Regions from separate parts of the Homo sapiens genome. Here region 1 is linked to region 2. Evidence: fine-mapped expression QTL. Tissue or cell type: tibial artery. Region 2 holds a variant in brackets; the other region holds the start of a gene. All regions are shown on one strand. Distances are from middle to middle.

What was found. PIP is the estimated chance that this variant, and not a neighbour inherited with it, causes the effect.
Region 1: RAD9A starts here. The variant in region 2 is fine-mapped to the expression of RAD9A in tibial artery (GTEx, PIP 0.97).

What each region holds. Positions count from the first base shown.
Region 1 is chr11:67,388,843-67,393,952 of GRCh38, reverse strand. It overlaps RAD9A (RAD9 checkpoint clamp component A), which reads right to left and starts at 1,967. Exons shown (of 11, transcript NM_004584.3): 1 at 1,875-1,967; 2 at 1,722-1,792; 3 at 1,171-1,299; 4 at 343-457; 5 at 163-262. The coding sequence starts at 1,908. It overlaps LOC100130987 (a long non-coding RNA gene), which reads right to left. Exons shown (of 4, transcript NR_024469.1): 4 at 2,266-2,555. RefSeq lists enhancers at 1,346-1,850, 1,885-2,800 and a silencer at 1,751-2,120.
Region 2 is chr11:67,309,079-67,314,265 of GRCh38, reverse strand. It overlaps SSH3 (slingshot protein phosphatase 3), which reads right to left. Exons shown (of 14, transcript NM_017857.4): 11 at 4,723-4,869; 12 at 4,298-4,498; 13 at 3,927-4,200; 14 at 1,674-2,675. The coding sequence ends at 2,379. Among named protein-coding and RNA genes, the nearest start is that of SSH3, 8.1 kb to the right of the region's middle. The variant C/T (reference allele first, on the strand shown) is at 2,560.

The DNA of each region.
Region 1 (5,110 bases), 80 kb before region 2:
CCAGGTAAGGACCTGAGCACATAGCGGGCCATGGGATGTCTTTGAGGTTCACAGAAACTCTGTAGGGAAAATGAAAGAGGTACCTTCTAAAATCAACCCCTTGGGGCCCCAAAGAAGGAAGAGAGAGACCCGGGGCTGAGCTGAGGGCAGGGGTGTGCTCACCGTGCTGGGGCGCGGAGCATGTGGGGGCACGAGGCTGGGTCGAAGACGGCCTGCAGGGACTCACAGTCCTGGAAGGACAGGTTGTGAGTCTTCCGCACCCCTGGATGGGCGATAGGGTCTCAGTGGGCCTCGCCGACCTCCCTGCTGAGGCACCCCTTGGCTGGCCGGCTGCCCACTCACCGAACTTGCAATGCAGCTGGACCACCAGGCGGCTGCTCCGGCCATTCAGGGAGATGCAGCATTTTTCCACCGTCTTCTCCAGCATCGCCAGTGAGCGGAAGACAGACAGGAAAGACTGCATGGGATAAGACACCTCAGCCTAGCATCACATCTCTGCAACAAGCTCTCCTGTCCCATGCAGGCCCACACCCATCATGGGCCCAGCATGTAACTCTGGGAAAAGGGCTCCCACGTCACCTCGGGCACTGGCATCCTTCTAGGCCTCATTCATGCTCTTCCTTATGCTTGGAATGCCTTGAAAGACCTGCTTACCTTTTTTTTTTTTTTTTTTGAGATGGAGTCTCGCTCTGTCACCCAGGCTGGAGTGCAGTGGTGCGATCTCAGCTCACTGCAACCTCCACCTCCCGGATTCAAGCAATTCTCCTGCCTCAGCCTCCCGAGTAGCTGGGATTACAGGCGCGTGCCACCACGCCCAGCTAATTTTTGTATTTTTAGTAGAGACGGGGTTTCGCCATGTTGGCCAGGCTGGTCTCGAACTCCTGACCTCGTGATCCGCCTGCCTCGGCCTCCCAAAGTGCTGGGATTACAGGCGTGAGCCACCGCGCCCGGCCAAAAGACGTGCTTACCTTTCTTGACGAACTTGAGCGTCACCACCCTCTCAGGTCCCCGCTGTGATGCTTTTACCATGGCCCTCCCTGTGTTTTGCATGGATTGGGCTTGCACGTGTCTCTCTCCCCACTTAGCATCTACTGAGTACCCCAGGGCAGAGGCACAGCTGGTGGAGATTCCTGGGGTGGAGTAGTGCCACTGCTGAGGGAAGGGCCTCACCTTCATCAGGATCTTACAGCGCAGCAGGTCCTGACCAGGGGTGGCTGCCTGGTATTGCTGGAAGAAGAGCGGGGCAAAGAGAAAGCAGGCATAGGCAGAGCGGGAGGAGTTCACCGTCCGGAGGGAGAGCTGGGCCACGAAGAGCAGGGAGAGGGACGTGGTCAGGGGGCAGCCACAGACCCAGCCCTCTGGCTGCTTCTGCTCACACACTTGCCCTATCGTCCTCCCGCTCCGCCACCACCTGCTGAAAAACCCTCCTTTCCCCATGGAAGCCTTCAGAGTCGGCCCCGGCGCTGCTGCCGCAGAGGAGGGGTCGCACACCCAGGCCTTCCCCGAGTTTCTCTAAGTGCACGTCACCCCCTGGGAGCTCGCAGGACAGCTTTCCTCAATTCACACACCGGCCTGGGAAGATGACAGCCGCCAGACTAAGAAACTGAAACTTTGCCGACAAATCTGCCAGCGGTCATCCCGCCTAGTGGGGGCGAGACTCTAGTCCGGGTTACCCGCTCCCGGCTGGAGTCCCACCCGCCCCCCACACCCTAGCCCCTCACCCCGTCCTCCAAGGGTTCCAGGTAGAGCTCGTCCCCGATGCGGGACAGGGAGTGGACGGCCTTGCCGAGCACTGCGGGGAGAAGAGCGGAAGGGGGTTAGGCTGGCGGCTCCGCGGCTGCTGCACCGCCGCTGCCAGGCCGACCTGCACTCACCCTTCACGTTGCCGCCCGTGACCAGGCACTTCATGCTGCCCCAGCGCTCCGCCAGCGGCCAACACTGCCCAGCTCTCCGCGACCTCCGGGTCCGGGGTCCCTTCCCGCGCACCGCCCCTGCCGGCCCCGCCCCCGCCTCCCCATTGGTCCACGTGCAGGCGCCTCCGTCACGTGAGAAAAACGCTCACAGGCTCTGCCGTCACGTGACGGCGCACGTTGTCCGGGGTGTCACGTGACCGGGGAGGCCCGCGGCGCCCGCCAGCCAGCTGCTCCTGGCTCCCCCGGCACGCCTCGGCCTTCCGTGCCCCTGGAGATCGGGGCGTTCCGCGGGCCGCGCACCGGATTGCGAAGGTCAGAGAGGACGCAGCTGTGGGGCGCGAGGTCCCTGTGCAGTGGACCGAGTGCTGGACTCGGAGTCGGAGTGTGGGGGCGAGCTCTCTGGGGTCACCCACTTAGTAGAGTTCCCGGGCGTCTGCCGGGGGATACAGGGTGCAAGCAAGACCATCGCACCCACTCTGGGCCTGAGACTCGGACTCCAGCAGCAATCCCCAACTCTAGAAAGAAGTCAAAGCAGCTTGCTTGCAGCAGCCGGGAGTGGGAGGTGGCTGCTCCTTCCGGCTTCGAGGATCCTTTAAGGAAAAACGGCAGTTTCTCCAGGCAGAAAGGGGTAGAACGGTGCCCCTGGCAGAGGGAAGAACAAGAGTAAATGCTCAGCGGTGTGGGCTCCGCCCCCTGGAGAGGGGAGTAGGTCTGTGAGTCTCAGAGAGGCGTAGGGGCCGCCAGATGATGAGGGGCACCGCTGGGACGCTCTGGAAACGTTTTACGAGGGTAGATCGTGGTTATGTGCCTTTTTTTGTTTGTTTGTTTTTTGAGACATATTCTTGCTCTGTCACCCAGGCTGGAGTGCAGTGGCGCGAACACGGCTCACTGCCGCCTGGAACTCCTGGGCTCAAGGGATCCTCCCATCTCAGTCTCCTGAGTATCTGGGACCACAGGCACACCCACCACGCCCGGCCCTTTTTTTTTTTTTTTTTTTTTGGGTAGAGACGGAGTCTTGCCATGTTGCCCAGGCCGGTCTCAACTGTGGGGTTCAAGCTGTCTTTCCGCCTTGGCCTCTCAAAGTGGAGTGAGCTACTGCACCGGCCTGTTTTTTGTTTTTTGTGTGTGTGTGTGGGGTTTTTTTGTTTGTTTGTTTTGAGATAGAGCCTCGCTCTGTCGCCCAGGCTGGAGTACAGTGGCACGATCACGCCTCCCAGGTTCAAGCGATTCTCCTGCTTCAGCCTCCCAAGTAGCTGGGATTACAGGCGCCTGCCACAACGCCTGGCTAATTTTTGTACTTTTAGTAGAGACGGGTTTCACCATGTTGGCCAGGCTGGTCTCGAACTCCTGACCTCAAGTGATCCGCCCGCCTCGGTCTCCCAAAGTGCTGGGATTACAGGCATGGGCCACCGCGCCCAGCCCCGGGTCTGTATTTTTAAAAGACCCCAGACTGGCCGGGTACGGTGGCTTACGCCTGTAATCCTACCACTTTGGGAGGCCGAGGCGGGCGGATCACGAGGTCAAGAGATCCAGACCATTCTGGCCAACATGGTGAAACCCCGTCTCTACTAAAAGTACAAAAAGTAGCCGGGCATGTTGTCACGCGCCTGTAGTCCCAGCTACTCTGGAGGCTGAGGCAGGAGAATTGCTTGAACCCGGAGGCGGAGGTTGCAGTGAGCCGAGATCGCGCCACTGCACTCTAGCCTGGCAACAGAGTGAGACTCCATCTCAAAAAAAAAAACCAGACTGTGTGCCAGGTGGGGATGCATCAGCTGGAAGGTATTCCCCTTCCCCTGGGCTTCCGGGTCCACGTGTGTAAAATGTAAGGGAGTCCTGGAGAAACTCACTGACCCCTACTCTCCCCACAGTACCAAGGCTCTGGTAGTTCTTGGAAGGGCCCAGGGCATCCCTGTATTCCTGCAGGGCCTGCCCGTGCCTTGCCCCTCAGGTCCTGTGGTAGTGCAGAAGATATATTTATCTCTGCCACCCTTGCTCTCCAGACCCACTTTCAAATGAGTTGAATTGATACATAATAATTGTACACATTTGGATACATGCATACACTTTGTTTCTCCCTCTCCTTCCCTTCTGCTCCCCTCGTCACCAGCCCTTGCCCCTTCCGTGGAGCCTTGGGGGAGGAGGTTACTCTTCCCTTCCCCTTCCCGGGGGATCCATGGAAATAGTGCCCCTGTCCCTGGGCATCCGGCTCAGTATGCTGGAGTCATCCTTGACCTCATGCTCGCCCTCACCCCTACACAGTCTTTCAGTTAAGTCCTGACCACTCTGCTTCCCAAACAGGTGGCAACTTAACAGGTGGCAACTTTGCCCTCCTCTTCCATCTCCAAGGCCTAGGCCACCATCCTCTCACCTGGATGACTGTAACAGCTCTCAGTGGTCTCCTGCCTCCACCCTGCCCCCTCCAGGCCACTCTCCATACAGCAGCAAAGTGACCCTCCTAAAATGTCCATTGTGTCATGCCTCTCCCGTGTTTGCACACTCCAGTGGTTGCCATAAAATCCAAACTCTGCCCTGAACCTGCAGGAGCCGCCGCCACCCATTTCTCCACCTGTGGCCTCCCCTTGATCACCTGCACAGCCATGCCAACCCTGTGGGCTCCCTGAACCCTCCACTTCCTTTTCCACCTGGGGATTTTAGCACATCCTTAGCTGTCCCCACCACTTGGCATCGTCTTACCCCTTCTAACGTGGCGGTGCTTCTCTTCCTCCAGGCTCAGTGCCGTCTTTTCTGCCCCCACCAGCATCCCATTACACTCTAGCTAGACCCTGTTTTAGCCACAGCACTTATCACGTTATTTCATGCGTGTGTTTGCCTGTTTAACATCTGTCTTCCTCACTAGTGTGTCTGCCTCACAAGGGCAGGAACCATGTCTGGTTTTTGGTTTTTTGTTTTTTCTGAAGACAGAGTCTTGCTCTGTCGCCCAGGCTGGAGGGCAGTGGCGCGATCTCGGCTCACTGTAACCTCCGCCTCTGGGGTTCAAGCAATTCTTGTGCCTCAGCCTCCCAAGTACCTGGGAATACAGGTGTGTGCCACCACGCCCGGCTAATTCTTGTATTTTTATTAGAGATGGGGTTTTGCCATGTTGGCCAGGCTGGTCTCAAACTCCTGACCTCAACTGATCTGCCCGTCTCAGCCTTCCAAAGTGCTGGGATTACAGGCGTGAGCCACTGCACCCGGCC
Region 2 (5,187 bases):
CCACCCAGATAGGTGCCAAGGATTCCTCTTCTGGAAGGGAGGTAGAGGCTAATCTAGCAATGTCTAGATAGCATGTATTGTTAAAATGTATCAAAGTGTAGCCAGGCGTGGTGGCCCTGTAGTCCCAGCTACTCAGGAGGCTGAGGCAGGATGTCTTGAGCCTGGGAGGCAGAGGTTGCAGTGAGCTGAGATCACCCCACTGTACTCAATAATAAATAAATAATAAATAATATAAAATGCATCAAAGTGAAGAGGGGTACTTGGGGATTTCCAGGTCTAATCCCTTTATTTTACAGAAAGAAACAGAGACTCAAAGCAAAGTAATTCATAAGTGGTGAAGCTGGGGCTAAATCCAAGTCTCCTGCCACTGCGCACTTCAGGGTTAGAGCAGTGCTAGGAGTCCCACCAGGGCCTGGGTGAGAGATTCATTCTTAAAACTGGGCGTGAAGTCTCAGTCACTGAGAATGCTTGGTGCCAGCTCCCATCTCTAAGGACTGCTTTGAGGGAAGGAGTTGAATCCGGCCCCTTCCCCAAACCAGGGTAATGTATCATAGAGCAGAGAGCATACATAATCTTGGGAAGAGGGATAGAAGTGACAAAGATGGGCCAGGCGCAGTGGCTCACGCCTGTAATCCCAACACTTTGAGAGGTCGAGATATGCAGATCGCTTGAGCCCAGGAGTTCGAGACCAGCCTGGGCAACATGGTAAAACCCCGTCTCCACAAAAAATAAAAGATAAAAATTAGCTAGGCATGATGGCACATGTAGGTAGTCCCAACTACTCAGGGGCTGAGGCAGGAGGATCCCTTGAGCCCGGGAGGTTGAGGCTGTAGAAAGCCAAGATCATATCACTGCACTCTATTCTGGGTGACAGAGCAAGACCCTGTCTCAAAAAAAAAAAGGAAGTGACAAAGATACAACCACTTAGCTAGGTGTGCCTGTGGTCCCAGCTACTCAGGAGGCTGAAGTGAGAGGGTCTCTTCAGCCTGGGAATTCAAGGCTGCACTGAGGCATGATCGTGCCGCTGCACTCCAGCCTGGGCAACAGAACCAGACTCTGTCTCAAAAAAAGAAAAAAAAAGATGGAATGACTAACTCTTCTTGGACACTAAAGTTGAGCAGAAGGAACCCCTGGGCAGGAGGGGAAGTGTCACCAAGGGTCCTTCTTCCCAGGCCGCAATAGCCTGGCTTGGAAAGTCAGGCCCTTTGCTTTGTAGCAGGAGGAAGGTGATTCTTGGGACCCAAAACATGCCAGAGAACCTGGCGCCGAGTGTCCCAAGGAGGCTTCGCTTTTGGAACAGGCTTGGTCCTGTCCAGGTAGGCACTTCCTCATGAGTAACCCCTTCCAGCTCTCACAGTGGAGCCACATGCCTGCTGCCCGCTGACGACTTCTTCCCTTGCCCGACCTGTCTGAGCGGGTGGGTGTGAGCAGGTCATATTTACCAGGCCCTGCCCCAGGAGATGGGGAGATAGCACTGACTTCCTCTCTTCTCTTACCCAATCTTCCTCCCACGCCACGCCCAAACACGGCACTCCCCCAAATAGGTCTGTCACGAGCCACCTTGGAATTGTGAGGAGACTGCTGGGAGGAAGGGGCGGCCACCTTCCCCAGCCAGCAGAGAAGGGTCTGACTGCAACACAGATGGCTTCATCGTCACATTGAAAATAACCAAATATGAAAATGTGTTTTATTTCTCAGTACAAAGCCAGATACTGTAAGGCTATGAAAAACTGACTAGCCAGAGGCCAGAAAGGACAAAAAGAAGACTATCTCTGGCCTGGTGCCCTGTGATCTGGCGTGGTGTCACAGGAGGTCTGGGGACAGCAGCAAAGACCTGGACCGGTGGAGGTGGATGAGGGAAGCGATCTGCCAGCCCTTCCAGCCTCCCGCGGCTGGGGCCTGAGGATCCTGCCTGCCTTTGGGGGCCACTGGTTGCCTGGCCTGGCTGGTTCCAGGAATGAACTGGGAGAGGACAGGAGGTGCAGGGAGGGGGCGGGGGTGGGAGGCGTGACCCTTTTTGCACGGGAAGCTCTGTTTTCATTCCGTGCCACAGGTGAGTGTGCAGGGCTAGAGTTGAGAATGAAACTAGGGTGCTGTTGCCCCCAAAGGTACCTTCAGTCCCTCTACCACATCCCAGTTAGAAAGTCTTGAGCCCTTGGACAGGCAGACATGGGCCTGGGACTTAAGGCTGTAGGAGGTGAGGCTGTAGTGACAGGGGTGGGAGGTGAGGCCGTAGTGACAGGGGTGGGAGGTGAGGCTGTAGTGACGGGTATGGGGCGGAGCTGAGAGGAATGTGTGCGGCAACAGACGTGAGGGTGTTTCTCCAAGGAGTTGTGGATCCTCTTCAGTGTCAGGGGAGCGTGGGCATGTGTGAGGGCTCAGGCCTCGCCCTCCTCTCCACTGTCATGCACGCTGGCCTGTCTCACCACCTTCCGGAACCTGGGCGTAGAGGAAATGCAGGGCTCTCCCTGCCCCTGCCCCTGCCCCTGCTCCTGCTCCTGGAAGGCCTGGGTCCGGTTGGCCACCACGGCACTGCCCTGGAGGGTAACCACTGACTGG[C/T]GGGACTTCAGGGCAGGCTGAGGCCCCCTGTCCACCTGCTGGCCTCCCTTGGTCCTTGCAAGCTGTGGGAAGGGCTGCAGAGGCTCTTCATGTGAAGACTCGTGGGAAGAGAAGACCTGGACAGGTGTGAGGATACGGAAGCCATGGGAGGCCTTTCTGGGGCAGGGGTGCCCAAGCACAGAGCCGGGAAGATCTGGGGCAGGGGTGCCAAGCACAGAGCCAGGAGGAGGCGAGGGCCGGAATGTTTGTGGCACGCACGCCAAAAGCCAAGCTGTCCACAGCCACGCTTCCTCGGGAGGGAGGACAACACCCCAGCCCTGCTGCCCCGCTCCTTGAACCCTACCTGCTTGTAGCTTCCTTCTGGCCCCCAGAAGCCCTCCTCAGCTCCCTGGAGACCCAGGCCTCCCTGCCCTCCTCCCCTCCTATGCTTTCTCTGCCTTTGCGTAGGCAGCCGGCAGGTGAAACCCGTGCCGGCACCAGCCCCTGAGCTGGGCTGGGTGGATGCGTGCGTCCGGTGCTGGGTGAGGACCTCTTGCCTTTAGCAACGCCCACACCCGCCCATCAACCCACCACGCCTCCCTATCCTTCCCCACCCACACCTCCTCCAGGAAGCCTCTCCCAAATGTTCCTGCCCTCAGTGGATGCTCCTTCCTCCAAGTCAGCCATTTGGCCTTGAGTCCCAGACAGGGCCTGGCTCCCAGGCTTAGGCTTGTGCCCGCAGCACTGAGCATCAAGGGTGCTGACTTAGGCAGGACTTGGGCGGCGTGAGTGCGCAGACTCCTCCCCACCCCATCCTTTGAGGTGCTGCTCCTCAGACCAGGGAGGGGCTTCAGAGATTAATTTAGCCTCCCCACCATGGGGTTAGAGATCGCCCCCAGGGCCTGCAGGGGCCTGTGGAGCTCATGGCCTGGGGAGGCAGCCCTGCCCCTGAGACAGCTAGTCCTGTGGTCAGGCTGGAACCTGCCCGCGATCGAGGCTGGGGCTGGCTCACCCAGGAGCCTTGGAAACAGGCACTGCTTCCTGCCCTGCCCCCGTGACCCCTCTCCAGCCTGTGCCTACAGTGCCTCCGCCTGCCCTCACTGGATCTCAGCTGCTCTCAGGGGCCCAGGACGTGGCTGGTCCCCATCTTCAGGGGTATTCATGGGACAGGCTGGAGACGCCGGGTGCTAAGAGATACTGGGCTGACTGTGAAGGAGGCTGGGACCAGGCCCCCTGGGTCCTCCCAGGACACCCTGCATGGGCGGGCCAGACTTAGCCCGGGTACGCCCTGCTCAGGTCTACAGTCAAACGCCCATCCTGGTCTTTCCCCATCTCCCTCCTTATGGCCCCCACCCCTGCAAGCTGAGCTCCCCCAGCCCCAGCCTCACCTCTGGCATGTCACTGGTCTCTGAGGTGCTCTCCAGCTCCAAGGAGGGCTCCAGAAGACTGATGGACCTCATGACCCCTCGGAGGTTTATACGTGGCCGTGGCCCAGGCTCTTCTTTCGGGGCTGCCTGGCTCTCTTCCATGCCTACAACCTTCTCCTCCCCACCACCCTCAGGTTCTGGCGGAAGAGGTGGGAATGGTGTAGAGACTTCAGGGGCTGGGTGCTCCTCTGGGGAGACCCCACCCACTTTCTGCTCCCAGACATGGCTCTGGCGGCTGTGAGGAGGTGGCCCTGAGTCAGCTCTGAGTGACCCAGCAGCCACCCCCAGCAAACCCACCTACTCACCCCCTGCCACTCGCTCCCATCCCATACCTGGCCGTCAGGATGCCCTGGTAGATCTGCAGCTGGCGCAGGAAGCCAGGGTTGGGGCGGGCGATGGGCCGGAGCTCCTGCACGTGGCGCAGGGCCTGCTCCAGGCTGCATTCGTACTGCTTCATGGCATAGGCCAGCACTGTGGCCGCTGAGCGGCTGACGCCCATCTTGCAGTGGACCAGCACGTGGGTGCCCTGTGCTCTGTGGAAGCAGGCCAGGTTCAGCACCCTCCCCTCACCATGAAGGATCCCGCCTCCTGCAGGGGAGGGCAGGTGAAGGGCTCACAACCAACTGAGAGTAGAGAAGGAGGGAAGGACACTGAGGGCTGGAAGGAATGGCACAGCTGATGGCAGAGTGGGCAGGAGGAGGGCACCGGAGGCCGCTTGAAGCCACAGTGGGGCAGGCAGCAAAGCCAGGAGACCGACCTTGCAGCCTCAATGAAGCGGTGCGTCTCCTTCCAGTGCGGCAGCAGCTGGGCCGACTCCTCATCCCAGAGGCGCACATTGTGGTAGGTGAAGCGCTCAGGGTAGAAGTTGTCAATCTCCCGGGCCATGTTCAAGATGTGGGTGACCCTGTCCCAGAGGGCCCAAGGCCAGGCTGATGTGGGCAGAGGTACCAGGCCCACTGGCAATCGGACCTGGCAGCCCCTGGGCCTCGCTTTAGCTCTGAGTTTCAAGTCAGATGGAGGCAGCAGTGACAGTGGGAGGAGAAGTGACCCAGCTGTCACCTGGCTGCGACCTTAGACCAATCATCTTGCCCTGCTGGGCTTGTTTCCCCATCTGGTCCAGACAGCTGGGCCAACTGCAACTCCAGCCCTTCAGTTATTCTCAGAAATGAGTTAGAGAACAGCTTTTGAGCTAAGCTGAGAGTGGGTGGGTCTGCAGCAGTGG